Homo sapiens: one gene and its partner. The protein of the gene in region 2 interacts with the protein of the main gene of each other region in a pairwise test. Each region holds a gene or a part of one and is shown on either strand. Other genes may lie near its edges.

Evidence for each region.
Region 1: the proteins of UBXN4 (region 2) and UBE4A interact in binary tests that used the Homo sapiens proteins (3 or more experiments, as listed by UniProt).

What each region holds. Positions count from the first base shown.
Region 1 is NC_000011.10:118,362,594-118,369,633, reverse strand, and holds part of UBE4A (ubiquitin conjugation factor E4 A), read right to left. Parts: intron 4,595-7,040; 5' UTR 4,554-4,594; coding exon 4,433-4,553; intron 1,004-4,432; coding exon 830-1,003; intron 212-829; coding exon 99-211; intron 1-98.
Region 2 is NC_000002.12:135,765,831-135,772,870, reverse strand, and holds part of UBXN4 (UBX domain-containing protein 4), read right to left. Parts: intron 3,103-7,040; coding exon 3,048-3,102; intron 2,301-3,047; coding exon 2,136-2,300; intron 452-2,135; coding exon 324-451; intron 1-323. UniProt on the Homo sapiens protein: Involved in endoplasmic reticulum-associated protein degradation (ERAD). Acts as a platform to recruit both UBQLN1 and VCP to the ER during ERAD.

The DNA.
Region 1 (7,040 bases), on a different chromosome or scaffold from region 2:
ACATATGGACACAAGCATAAGTTGGAGAACAGTGAGCAGAATTCAGCCGCATAGCTAATTTTTGCTAAGGGCACACATTAGGAACGTAAGAATATTACCTGCTCAACATTGCTCATATCAAGCCAGTCTTGATCTTCTAGCTCTACTGCCATTTCTTCCAAATACACACAACGGCTAGGGATGCCATTCCCGCTTTTCAAGCTGGGATCACCTGGGAAATGGTTTTAATATGATAGGTTAAGGATAATGCTTCTGTTTTATACAGACAACTGATCTTGACAGCATCACTCTTGAACTGCAAATCTGACTCAAGTAATACCAGAATGATCCTGATACACAAAGCAACATCTAAAGATTCAAATCTTTTTTTTTCCCCCTCTAGTCACAGAGAATGGGATTTGTTATAAACCTAGCATCATGACATTTAAAGAGTAAATCCCAGACATTAGTACCAACCTTGGGGTTTAAACACAGACAGGGCACAGAGGGCAAACACTCTCTGATGCCTCTGAAGGCTTCCATCTGAATATTTAGGTTACCTCTGAGAAGAAAATGGGTTTGGCTACCCTTCCCATTTCCTTTTTAAGGTAGTAAAGGCAAGTAGCTATATAGTGCAGTCAGTATTGAAATGGGAACAAAAGTTAGATCTGCATCTAAATACTGTTTTTAGGTCATACCAAAAGGTTCACTGAAATATAAACCCTGAGTTCCAGGGAGTGCAGTGAGTAGGTTTGTATCTAACCATTAGCTGTAACCAGTTTCAAAGAGCAAGCCCCTAGCCCAAGCTCAAATAGGAAGGGTAGAATAATGCTATAAGTTTGTAACTCACTGTTGTCCAGAGTAATAAGGAAGATCCTTTGGATCATGTGATTGATGTTGAGTTGCTCACATATTTCCTGCTGTGATCGGAATGAGCGGCTAATCTCAGCCACAGAGTAATCGAATTCATCCAGGCTCTCTGACACGCTATTATCCGAGTCATCTGGGCTAGCTGGGAGTTCATCTGCCAGAAAATGTATACTGTTAAATGTTACACCCCTTTAAGAGAGAACCAAGCATGCTACCAAAAATAATAAATGTAACCAAGAAGATGATAATTTCAGATGTAAAACAAGCTAATCATCTAATTAGTGAACATCTCAAGTCAGGGAAGTTAAATATAGGGTTTTGAAATTCCTGGCTATAAATCCTACCACATTTTACAAAGCAAAAGTTTTATTTCTATCCATAATTATACTCCACACTGCCAGAAATAGCAAAGTTATCTTCTCTACAGAATCCTAGTGAACAAAGAATTACCTAATAGATCAAAATGCCTTTAATTATTTTAAATGTATGGCTTTTCTCCCTGATTTTAAGAGATAACATTTGTTTTAATAGTTCTTAACTGTACAGAAAAATATAGTATAGAAAGTCTCCTGAACCAATTCCCTAAAGACACTTAACAGTGTTCAAGAATTTTTTTCTTTTCTGGTGCTAATATTCATTACTATCTTTTTAATTTTTTTAAAAAATGGGATACTATACATAGCTCTTTTCAGCTTGCCTTTTAATCAGCACCAACACCTTTCCCTGTTAGGCCATTTAGAGGCCTACCTCACTATTTTTAATAGCTGTATTGTATCACATCTTTTGCATGCCCTGTGGTTTATGTAGCTACTTTTCAACTGATGAACAATAGGGTTGTTTCTAATATTTCATGATTTTAAATACTGCACTGAATACAATACAACTTAACTCTTTTTGTTTACTTGTATGAGTATTTCTATAGGATAAATTCACAGTAGCAGAACTGCTGGATCAAAGAGCTTGAACATTTAAAAAGTTAACATTTACTGCCTGGCACGGTGGCTCACACCTGTAATCCCAGCACTTTGGGAGGCTGAGGCAGGCGGATCACGAGGTCAGGAGATTGAGACCATCCTGGCTAACATGGTGAAACCCCATCCCTACTAATACAAAAAATTAGCCAGGCGTGGTGGCACACACCTGTAGTCCCAGCTACTCGGGAGGCTGAGGCAGGAGAATTGCTTAAACCCGGGAGGCAGAGGTTGCACTGCACTCCAGCCTCGGTGACAGAGCAAGACTTCGTCTCAAAAAAAAAAAAAAAAAAAAGTTAACATTTACTACCAAGTTACCCTCAAAGAGACTGTCTGATTTACATGCAAACCCAACAGTATATGAGAGAGTGCCTGTTTGAATCTTCACAAATTTCATAGGTAAAAAAACAATTTAATGGTTGTTTTAATTGGCACTTCTCTAATGATTGATGAGAATAAATTTTTTAATCATTTGGTTATAAGTTGCATGTCACATCTTTTGTACCTTTTTATTCTTTCTTGTTATTTTTTTCTTATTGATGAAATTCCTTCGATTTTTTTTTTTTTAAACTTCTGTCCTCAAAATCTGCTCCCATCCTTTGATTTTTTTTTTTGAGATGGACTCTCACTCTGTCGCCCAGGCTGGAGTGCAGTGGTGTGATCTCGGCTCACCGCAACCTCTACCTCCCAGGTTCAAGTGATTCTCCTGCCTCAGCCAAGTAGCTGGGACTACAGGCGCCCACCACCACGCCCGGCTAATTTTTGTATTTTTAGTAGAGATGGGGTTTCACCATGTTGGCCAGGCTGGTCTCAAACTCCTGACCTCAGGTGATCCGCCCACCTTGGCCTCCCAGAGTGCTGGGATTATAGGCGCCTGTCATCATGCCCGACTAATTTTTGTGTTTTTAGTAGAGACGGGGTTTTGTCATGTTGGCCAGGCTGGTCTCGAACTCCTGACCTCCGGTGATCTGCCCACCTAGGCCTCCCAAGGAGCTGGGATTACAGGCGCGAGCCACTGCGCCCAGCCCCATCATTCATGTTGAATGACTACATAAAAGTAGTGTTATTCACTATATGCCACATATGAGTCTATATGTACTTTTCTCTATTGACAGAATGGCTAGTCTGAAAGTCCAGGTAAAACTCTCAAAGTAAGAGTTGTTTCAGTGTGGTGAGTATAAGCTCAACATAGGAAGCCAAAGGTTTTGGCAAAGTACTAATTGCTAGTGGAAACAGGTTGGACCTGGTGGCATGATAAACTCAGTGTAAACAAACTAGGATGATGAGGTGCCAAAATAGTAACAGAAGGGCATGTGCCTGCAATGCTCCCAACTCTAGCCAGATTTATGTCTGTTTATAGCCAGAAGGACAAGCGTTCTGTTGCTCAGCTGCTATACTGTTGAGTTTTTCTCTGACCTCCAATGGTGACAGAAGCTAAGAATCTGTTTAGCAAAATTTCCCTCAACCACATACTCATAAATCATACTTTCTCATTCCTTATTTTTCCTATTTTTCACTCTGCTTTTTCCCCTACAATCTTCTAAACCAGAGTTTCCCATTCTGGCCCCGTATCATAGAAATCTGGGAGAGATTTCAGAGACTGAAAATACCATGTTAAAAAAAATCAACATTGATTTTGTTTTTCCCTTGCATCAATCACTTATCTGTCTTGCCTTTACCTCTTTTTTCTTCAGCCCTTTCTAACTGAAAGGCCAAAAGTCAGCTATGCACCTGAGTGTTTTTTTTTTTTTTAAATAAACAAAATAAAGGGAAAATGCAAACACTTCTCCTTCTCTCAAAAGAAAAACACTATTATTCTTTTCGGAGAGAGGAGAAGGGGAGCAATTTCTGGTTTGAAAGATTGTGAATATCTTCAGAAGACTAACATATTTGAGAAAAATCCTAATTCTTCTAGTGTATATGTCTCCTTATAGGAGGAAGCTGGACTTGATCTTAAATTCGGTGCCTGAAAGAAAACCATTTTTTCTGATTACTGAGATGTTATTCTGATGTTTTTCATAGTAAGGCTAAGGATCAGATTTTTTAAAAAAGTCTGTCCTAACAGGACTAAGCTACAAATGATGCCACTCATCGGAACAGAAGAAGCACTTTGCTTGGGAGGGCCTTTGAAGTGCTGAGCTTAAGAACAAGTCTCATTTGCCTACAGGTCAAAAAGCTTTTATAGTTCTTCCTTTTACATCTGCTTTCTATAGCTGCACATGACTTGCTTTCTACACCTACACTTACCACCTCTGTGTCCCATGTTAAAAACATTTATTTAAATAGCTTTTACTAGGTGATTTTTTTTTTCTTTTAAAGAAAACAGCCTGACAGCTTTGGGATCACGACTGGCATCTGTTACTATGGAACCACCTGTTACCTGGTCTCTTTTTGTACAGTGGAGAGGACAGCGGAGGGGAGGGACTCACAACAAAACCAACAATAAAAGCAAACAAACAAAAAACCCCAATTTCTGCTCTCAACAAACAAACAAAAACCAACTTTTGTTCCAAACTTAAATTCCAATTGCAATTAAGGACTCAAAGAATACTTAATTTGGGAAGACCCCATTCTAGGTCATCTTATTTGCTGCTATTGGCTCCTCCACTTACCAGATTGTTGCTTCAGCTGCTCTTTTTGGATTGCCGCAAACTGTTTGGCATCAGCCAGGGAGCCAAAAAGAGCAGCAAAGGGGTTACTTGAGATGTTGTTGTTATTCTCCTGGTCTGTCATTTCACTTTAAGGTATCCTCCATCCAGACCTAGTGGGAGAGGCTGTTCAAAGGACAGGTATTAGACACAAGAGGGCAGATGACACAATAGCTGTAATATACCTGTGGTTGTTTCTTTTCCCATTTCTCAAATACAATACATTTTAAAATACTTTGGGTTAAGATTTTCCAATTCCTGTCCCCAAACTCAAGACATTTTTGGCAAAATGGTTACAAACCTACCAGCTGGACTCGGTGGCTTGATTTGTGGATAGCTGAAACTAAAAAGGCTAAAACGTTCAGCTGGAATGCATTAATCTGTTGATATACTTTTATTTGCAATACCTTTAAGAAAACAGGTTAAGTAGAAAGAATTATTGAAGTCAAAGAGAGAACTCACCTACTAATTGTAATAACAATGTGGCACTGAAAAATAATAAGACAAGAATTATGGATTTCCCAAGAATTAAGCTGGCAGTCTAGTTCTCATTCACTGGGGTGAGGACAAGGGACTTCTATGACTTAGGGCTGGGGATGGATATTTCTCAGCTACATATAAATTAAGTAAAAGCCCATATCTTAGATTTGGACTCTGGCAAATCAGGACTGGAAGCAGTTCAGCTGTATGTTGTGGGTTTTTAACATAGATTAAGCAATCTATTTATTTCTAGGCTTAAAAATACTGATATTTCTTCCACTAAAAATTAAATGGTCTTTGCTTCATGCTATATCTAACCTTCACTGTTTACCTGATTTCTTAAAATAATACTGAAGAAACACGAATTCCAACGGTCAGGTCTACTGTGTAATATGAAATATAGATACCTCAAAGGTGTTTAGTAGAGCTGGCTGAGCCTGCATTCACACTCTTCTGATTACATTTCCTCATTCAAGACCAAGTGAACTCAGTGGCACAACAGAATAAACAGGGCTCCCTGAAAGGCTTTCTCCCCTTTCTGAAATTTTAAGGCCATGACATAGAAATATTAAATACAACACTGAAAAGGGTGGGAAGAGACAAAGGGTATGAATGTTTTGTTCATAAGGATCTTGAACTGCTATAAGGACAGAGACCTTAGAAATAGCGGGAGTAGGGGTATAAAGGAAGAAAAAAAGAACATTTGGTCTACCTTTGGTTTATTGAGGCAAGACTCCTCACAGGATCATATCAACAAAAGCTAATGTGGGCCAGGTGCAGTGGCTCATGCCTGCAATCCCAGCACCCTGGGAGGCTGAGGCAGGTGGATCACCTGAGGTCAGGAGTTCAAGACCAGCCTGGCCAACATGGTGAAACCCCATCTCTACTAAAACACGAAAATTAGCCAGGCATGGCGGCAGGTGCCTGTAATCCCAGCTACTTGGGAGGCAGGAGGCTGAGGCAGGAGAATTGCTTGGACTCGGGAGGCAGAGGTTGCAGAGAGCTGAGATTGTGCCACTGCACTTCAACCTGGGTGACAGAGCGAGACTTCGTCTCAAAAAAAAAAAAAAAAAAAAAAAGCTAATGTGGTCGAAAAAGTTACCCTTATTTACCAGAGAAAGAGATTATTTATAACATTTCTTGACAATTCTGAGGCATCTTCAGCACTTGCTTCATGCTCCTCTGCCATTTTTTCCACACAAGAGCTAACGGCTAATTAGCTGTAATGACTTAGGCAGTCTAGTCTCCTCTCAGTGCAGCTCAAAGCTTTACTGCTTCAAGGAATTGAACTGTTATTTGGATTTTTAGTAGAGACGGGGTATCACCATGTTGGCCAGGCTGGTCTCGAACTCCTGACCTCAAGTGATCCTCCCACCGCGGCCTCCCAAAGTGCTGGAATTATAGGCATGAGTCACTGCGCCTGGCCTTCTGTATTTTATTTTTTGCTATGTATATTTCAGTAAGCTTAATAATGCAAAAAAAGGGAAAGATACCATATTTAGTATTGAAATTAATGAGAGGGATTTTCCCCATGTAATTACCGCACAAGTTTAATTATTACCTGTAGTTAATGTAAAAACACCAAGAATTGTCTTATTGTTAGCTGACCACCATTCTACTTCCATCCTAAAATACCACAAATTCCAGAGGAATGCAAAAAGTATATTGAGCTCTTGTTATTTCTCTCTCTAAAACATCACATTCATTTTTTTCCTTTGGGTATCCACTCCACTCAATCCAGAAGAGGCTGACCAGTTCAGAAGGGGTTGACCTCACCCACTAGCCCCAGGAATGAACATACAAGTCTGGCCAGGCTAAAAAGAATACAGCATTTTCCAGCCAAAGCAACTGATCCAGGAGTGGGCACAAGACACTATGGAGGCCTAACAGAGTCAATGAATACCAGCTTCAGGACTTCAGCTGAATCTACGGAAAAGTGAGTTTTCTCCTGATTGAGTTGATAAGCCAGTAAGATAGAGTTGCCATCTTTACACCATTTAGAAAAGGCCTAGCCTAAAACCAAGCCAACATACACTAGAAAACAGAATTGAGAGATGGAAAGATAAGTCTGGACTTTTCAGTTATAAAAACC
Region 2 (7,040 bases):
GAGACGGGGTTTCACCATGTTAGCCAGGATGGTCTCGATCTCCTGACCTCGTGATCCGCCCGTCTCGGCCTCCCAAAGTGCTGGGATTACAGGCGTGAGCCACCGCGCCCGGCTATTGGGCCCTCTTTTAAAGTTATTTATGTAGTACTTTTTTAGTGTACACTCACACGAAATGAGAGATACCATTGGGAGCTGTCAAATTAATATGTCCCTCTGGAATGGACTGCTTATAACCACAGTATACATCAGTGTTAAAAACCAGCTTATAATCATTCTCCTCAGCCCCTATGTGCACAGAGATGTTTCAGCATGAAATATAGTACCTTCTTTCTCTTGCATAAGATTCCCTCTTGACTTCCATTTCTGCCTGTTTTGCTAGCAAGGCAGCAGCTTTGGCAGCCTCTACTTCTTCCTTTGTCTTTGCAAAACGAGCAGCTCTCTCTGCACGGTCCTTTAAAACATCATTAAATACCAATTACCTTTACTGCCAGAATGGTTAATTCACACAATTCCAAACAAATATGCATGGAATTTTTTTTTTTTATTAAGAGACAGGGTCTTGCTGTGTCATCAAGGCTGGAGTGCAGTGGCACAATCATAGCTCACTGCAGCCTCTGAACACCTGGGCTCAAGCAATCCTCCCACCTCAGCTTCCAGAGTAGCTGGGACTACAGGTGTGTGCCACCATGCCCAGCTAATTTTTTTTCTTTTCTTGTAGAGGTGGGGTCTCACTTTGTTGCCCAGGCTGATCTTATACTCCTGGCTTCAAGCAATCCTCCCACCTCAGCCTCCCAAAATTCTGGGATTACAGTTGTGAGCCACTGTGCCTTTGCTGCCTGAAATTGTCTAACACCATATGTGAACTTTAACATTCTGGAACTGTTATTTTTTAGTTTTATCAACTGTCGGAGACCAGAATTATTATTAAGGAAACAAGGAAATGAATTTGCTCACTACTGTATCTCCAAAGCCTGGAACAAGGTCTGGTACATAATAAATGCTCAACAAGCCTGGGTGTGGTGGCTCACGCCTGTAGTCCCAGCACTTTGGGAGGCCGAGGTGGGTGGATCACCTGAGGTCAGGAGTTCCAGACCAGCCTGACCAATGTGATGAAATCCCGTCTCTACTAAAAATACAAAAATTAGCTGGGCATGTTGGCATGCACCTGTAACCTCAGCTACTTGGCAGCCTGGGACAGGAGAATTGCTTGAACTCGGGAGGTGGAAGTTGCAGTGAGCCAAGATTGCGCCACTGCACTCTAGCCTGAGCAACAAGACTAAAACTCCATCTCAAAAATAAATAAATAATAAATGCTCAACAAATACTTGTTGACTGACCAAATGAACAAAAATATTAAGGTAGGGATGGCTTTTTTTCTTTCTTTCTTTTTTTTGAGATGGAGTTTCGCTTTTTGTCGCCCAGGCTGGAGTGCAATGGCACCATGTCAGCCTACTGCAACTTCCACCTCCTAGGTTCAAGTGATTCTCCTGCCTCAGCCTCCCAAGTAGCAGGATTATAGGCGCCCACCACCACACCCGATTAATTTTTGTATTTTTAGTAGAGATGGCGTTTCACCATGTCGGCCAGGCAAGTCTTGAACTCCCGACCTGAGGTGATCCGCCCTCCTTAGCCTCCCAAAGTGCTGGGATTACAGGCGTGAGCCACACCTGGCGGGATGGTTTTAATATGTATTGCAGCTGATGAATTATAAAAGCAATTGTTGCAAACTAAGCTTTATGATGTGCCTAAATCCTTTCAATGTTGCAAAAAAGTGTGCCTGTGACTACAGAAGAACTACTAGGTACTTAGTACTAGTAGTTACTACTAGTAGGTACTTAGTACTAGTAGTAGGTACTAGTACTTAGCTTATTTTCTAGGGAATCTTTAAAAGCTGCTTTTTGAATGCTGATAAAAGTCATAAATTAACAAAATATGAATAAAAATCACTTCAAAAAAATCAACTCAATTTTAATCTTAACTATTTTAATTCATTTACAATTTCTAATAAAAGGAAGCTCAGGATTGGTAGTCTATGAGTCACTAAAATCTATTTTTGTGTGCACAGTCTGGTAGTAATCTAAAGCTACTGTGCACAGAAAAACAGTTTCACGAATGTCTGGAAACTTAAGACTTACCAATGCAATCTGCTGTTTTATACGTTCTCGAGCTGCCCTATCTTCTGCTTTCTCTCTGTTTCTTTCCTCCAGCATTCTTTTTGTTAATTCTTCTTCTTGTTTTCTTTTATAATCCAACATTTCTTTTCCAGTTTTTCTCCTCTCAATTTCCTTCTTAATTTCTCTCTGAATTAAAGAAAAAGTTTTATGATCCAAAAACTTGATAATCTGCCCCAGATATTATTTTGAATGCAACGAAAACTGCAGTTAAAAGAATAAAACTTCATAAAATGTAAGTCTAGACGAGTTTATTAATGGCATGGTTAATGGTCAAATGTCTATCAATCTATAAATCATTGCCAATGGTCTGTTAAGATAATAATGTAGTCAGTGTAATTTGAAGGCAAGCATAATTACAGGTCTTTAGTCATGAGGGTAAATATATTACCCTTCAGGGACAACATGGCAGTCACGTATTTGGCTTGAATGAAATGGTAACCTTCCTATATTAGAACTCCAAAGACATGCTACACAGTTAGGTATACATGGTGAGAAAAATGAACCATGTGCTAGAATGCTTAACAGGAGAGGAAAAATTCAGCAAAATGTCTATACATTTTTTCACAAAAATGAACTAAAACTTTGTTCAACCTCAAGCCAAACATTTTAGCTCAAGTCCCTTTATTCTTAGTGTAAAAAAAAATCATTGCAGAGGGAAAAAGCATGGTCTAATTTATTCATAGTAATTTACGAAAAGAACACAAAAAATGTATATACTATGACTCTACTAGAGAAAACAGGAATTATCTTCATAGTGCTGCAACACTGAACTAAAACTATGAAGTCACCCTAGGCCTGCCACACTGAATAGAATAATCAATCACAACCTCAGTTAATGAGAGGACAAAACAATGCTAACTGCATGAACTTTACCTGTTCTTCCTCTTTTCTTTTCTCTTCTCTCCTTTCTTCAAGTTTTTTTGTTAGTCTGTATTAAAAAAAAAAAAACCACCACTAATTGAGACACATCATATTAATATAAAACACATTTAGGAGATGGATTTAGCTAAAACAATTGGAGAAATAAAGAAACAAACAAACAAAAAGCAAGCAACTATTTATCTGCCTGGCTTCAGGCCCCTACAGAAATCCTGGAGTCAACGAGAGCCCATCAGAAGCCTAGCTTCATTCTAAATGCCTCACTTCCCACTTATGATTAGTTTCCCTTTTTTTCTGATTTACCTGATATTGACTTTAAAATCTACAAATACATTTTCAAACAAATACATAAATCAGTGACTTATAAATGCTCTACTCCTTATATAAAACTAAACAGCACTATGGTAAAAAAAAAAAAAACCTGTAAAAATAAAAACTTAAGGCCAGCAAATTATTAATACCAAATTACTAACACCAACTTGATTCTCAACTGTAAGAAGTTCATCAGTTAAAAATGAATGGAGGCTGGGCACAGTGGCTCATGCCTGTAATCCCAGCACTTTGGGAGGGCTGAGGTTGGTGGATCTCTTGAGCTAAAGACCAGCTTGAGCAACATGGCAAAACTCTGTCTCTACAGAAAACACAAAAATTAGCCAGGCATGGTGGCGTGTGCCTGTAGTTCCAGCTACTTTAGGGGCTAAGGTAACAGAATTGCTTGAGCCGGGAGGTCGAGGCTGCAGCGAGTCACGTTCGCGTTACTGCATTCCAGCCTGGGTGACAAAGGGAGACCCTGTCTGAAATAAACAAACAAATGGAGGCTGGGTGTGGTGGCTCACATGTGTAATCTCAGCACTGCAGGAGGCTGAGGCAGGAGGATAGCCTAAGCCCTGGAGTTCGAAACCAGTCTGGGTAACAACTTGAGACCCCATCTTTACAAAAAATAAAAAATCAGGCTGGGCACGGTGGCTCAAACCTGTAATCAATCCCAGCACTTTGGGAGGCCGAGGCAGGCGGATCAATTGAGGTCAGGAGTTTGAGACTAGCCTGGCCAACACGGCGAAACGCTGTCTCTACTAAAAATAGAAAAACATCTGGGCGTGGTGGTGAGCGCCTGTAAACCCAGCTACTCGGGAGGCTGAGACAGGAGAATCGCTTGAACCTGGGAGGCGGAAGTTGCAGTGAGCCGAGATCATGTCACCGTACTCCAGCCTGGGCGAGAGTGAGACTCCGCCTCAGGAAAAAAAAATAATAATATAAAATCAGCTGAGCATGGTAGTGTAATGCAACGTAATGAAACCCCATCTCAAAAACTAATAAAATCGGCCAGGCACGGTGGCTCATGCCTGTAATCCCACCACTTTGGGAGGCCGAGGTGGGCAGATCACGAGGTCAGGAGTTTGAGACCAGCCTGACCAACATGGTGAAACCCTGTTTCCACTAAAAATACAAAAATTAGCCAGGTGTGGTGGCATGCGCCTGTAATCCCAGCTACTCAGGAGGCTGAGCCAGGAGAATCGCTTGAACCTGGGGGGCGGAGGTTGCAGTGAGCCGAGATGGTGAAACTGCACTCCAGCCTGGGAAACAAAGTGAGACTCCATCTCAAAAAAATAAAAAAATTTAAAAAATAAAATAATGATTCTGAAATTAGACAGTGGTAGTGGATGCACAACCTTGTGAATATACTAAAACTCACTGAATTGTACACTTTCAATTTCATGGTAGTGAATTATATTTCATTTTTTTAAATGAAAATGGTATTTTCTCTAAAAGTGTTTGGTGTATACCAAACTGAACAATGTGTGCCAGCAATCAAGGGAGTGAGTACTGTCAAAAAGCCAGAAGACCCAATATGAAGGGGATTCCAACAAGTCAAATTTGGGGCAATTTGTGCACCAAAAAGAATAGAGAAATGGATAGTAACACATGAGAGAAAAAAAAGCATCTGTGACATGTCTTAACTGCTAAGGGGAACTGTAAATTGGCCTAACCACTTTGGAAAGCTGTTTGATCACTATGTATAACCCAGAAATTCCCGCTTCTTCATATATATGCCCAAAAGAAATGTGTACACATGTTCACCAAGACATATACAAGAATATTCCTCATAGCAGTTCTATTCAAATAGCCCCAAACTGAAAACAATCCTAATGTCCACCAACAGTAGAATGGATTAATAAATCAAGGTAGAGTCAAACAGAATACTATAAAGCAATGAGAGTGCACCAATTACTGTGACATGCAACACGGATAAGCCTCAAAATACAAAGCTGAACAAAGGAGATCAAACACAAAAATACACGTTGCATGATTCCATCACAAAGTTCACAAACAGACAACTAACCTACAGTGTTCGATTCAGGATAGTGATCATCTTATGGAGGGAATCCATAATTGGGAAGGGGCATTAGGAAAGCTTATTAGGCACTGTTAATTTTCTTTCTTTCATTTTTTTTTTCCGAGACAAGGTCTCACTTTGTCGCCCAGGCTGGAGTGCAGTGGCACGATCTCGGCTCACTGCAACCTCTGCCTCCCGGGTTCAAGTGATTCTTCTACCTCAGGCTCCTCAGTGGCTGGGACTACAGATGCACACCCCCACGCCCAGCTAATTTTTGTATTTTTAATAGAGACAAGGTTGCACTGTGTTGGCAAGGCTGGTCTTGAACTCCTGACCTCAGGTGACCCGCCCACCTTGGCCTCCCAAAGTGCTGGGATTACAGGCGTGAGCCACCATGCCAGACTAGCACTGGTAATTTTCTATTCCTTCATCTGGGTGCTGGTGTCCAATAAGTAGTTTACTGGAAAAAGGGGGCGGGGGTGGGCAGATGGAAAGTAGAGGGGGTAGATCAAAGCATTTCTCTACAGAAGAATGCTAGCTGATAAATGTAGAAAAAAACAGAATGAGAAAAATACCACAATTTTTAAACATCAATGAAATAGGTGATTACAGCAAAAATCAATGAATGCTGAAACCACCGGGTGAAGTTTTTAAGCAGTAGGATATTTACCATTTGAATCACCCCATAGACAACTTATATATTAGAAAATGAAAAGGGTACCCAACAGACAACATCCTAACCAAATAATTAAACTTTACAGCTCCAATAATGCATACATCTCATATTACTTGTCTCCTGATATGAGTAATGGAAAGGACAAAACATTATCTTGGTAATGTTCTTATCAGAGTTTAACCTGAATCTAATGATAGAACAGGGAGCAGATCAAAGGACATTGTAGAAACAACTAACCTAGACTCTTCAAAATGTCTAAATCATGAAAAATGCAAACAAGAAGTGTCTTGGATTCAGAGCCTAAACTAAATGCAATGAACAATCCTTGACTGGATCTTGAATCAAGGGAAGAAAAGTTAAAAGGGCCATTATTGGAGCAACTGGGAAATCTGAATACGGACAAATTAGATAATCTTACTGTATCAATTGAGAATTTCTTGAGTATGATAATGGTATCGTGCTTGTATCTGAAAATATACACCATCTGAAAATGGTGTATAAACGTATTTATAGACCATCTGTAGAATTTTCTTCTGAGAAATACAAACGCAAGTTTGTTTTAATTTGGGTGAAAAGCTACACTGCATCTAATTTAATAACAAATTGACTGTTCCATAACTTCTACATTTGGGCTTCGACTTTTTTTTTTTTTTGAGATGGCTTTTCTCTCTTATTGCCCACGCTGGAGTGCAATGGCATAATCTCAGCTCACTGCAATCTCTACGTCCTGGGTTCAAGCAATTTTCCTGCCTCAGCCTCCCAAATAGCTGAGATTACAGGTACCCACCACTACGTCCGGGTAATTTTTGTATTTTTAGTAGAGACAGGGTTTCACCATGTTGCTCAGGCTGGTCTCGAACTCCTGACCTCAGTTGATCCACCTACCTCGGCCTCCCAAAGTGCTGGGATTACAGGCATGAGCCACTGTGCCGGGCTGGCATCTACTTCTTAATGGTCACTATGCCTGCTTGGGTGC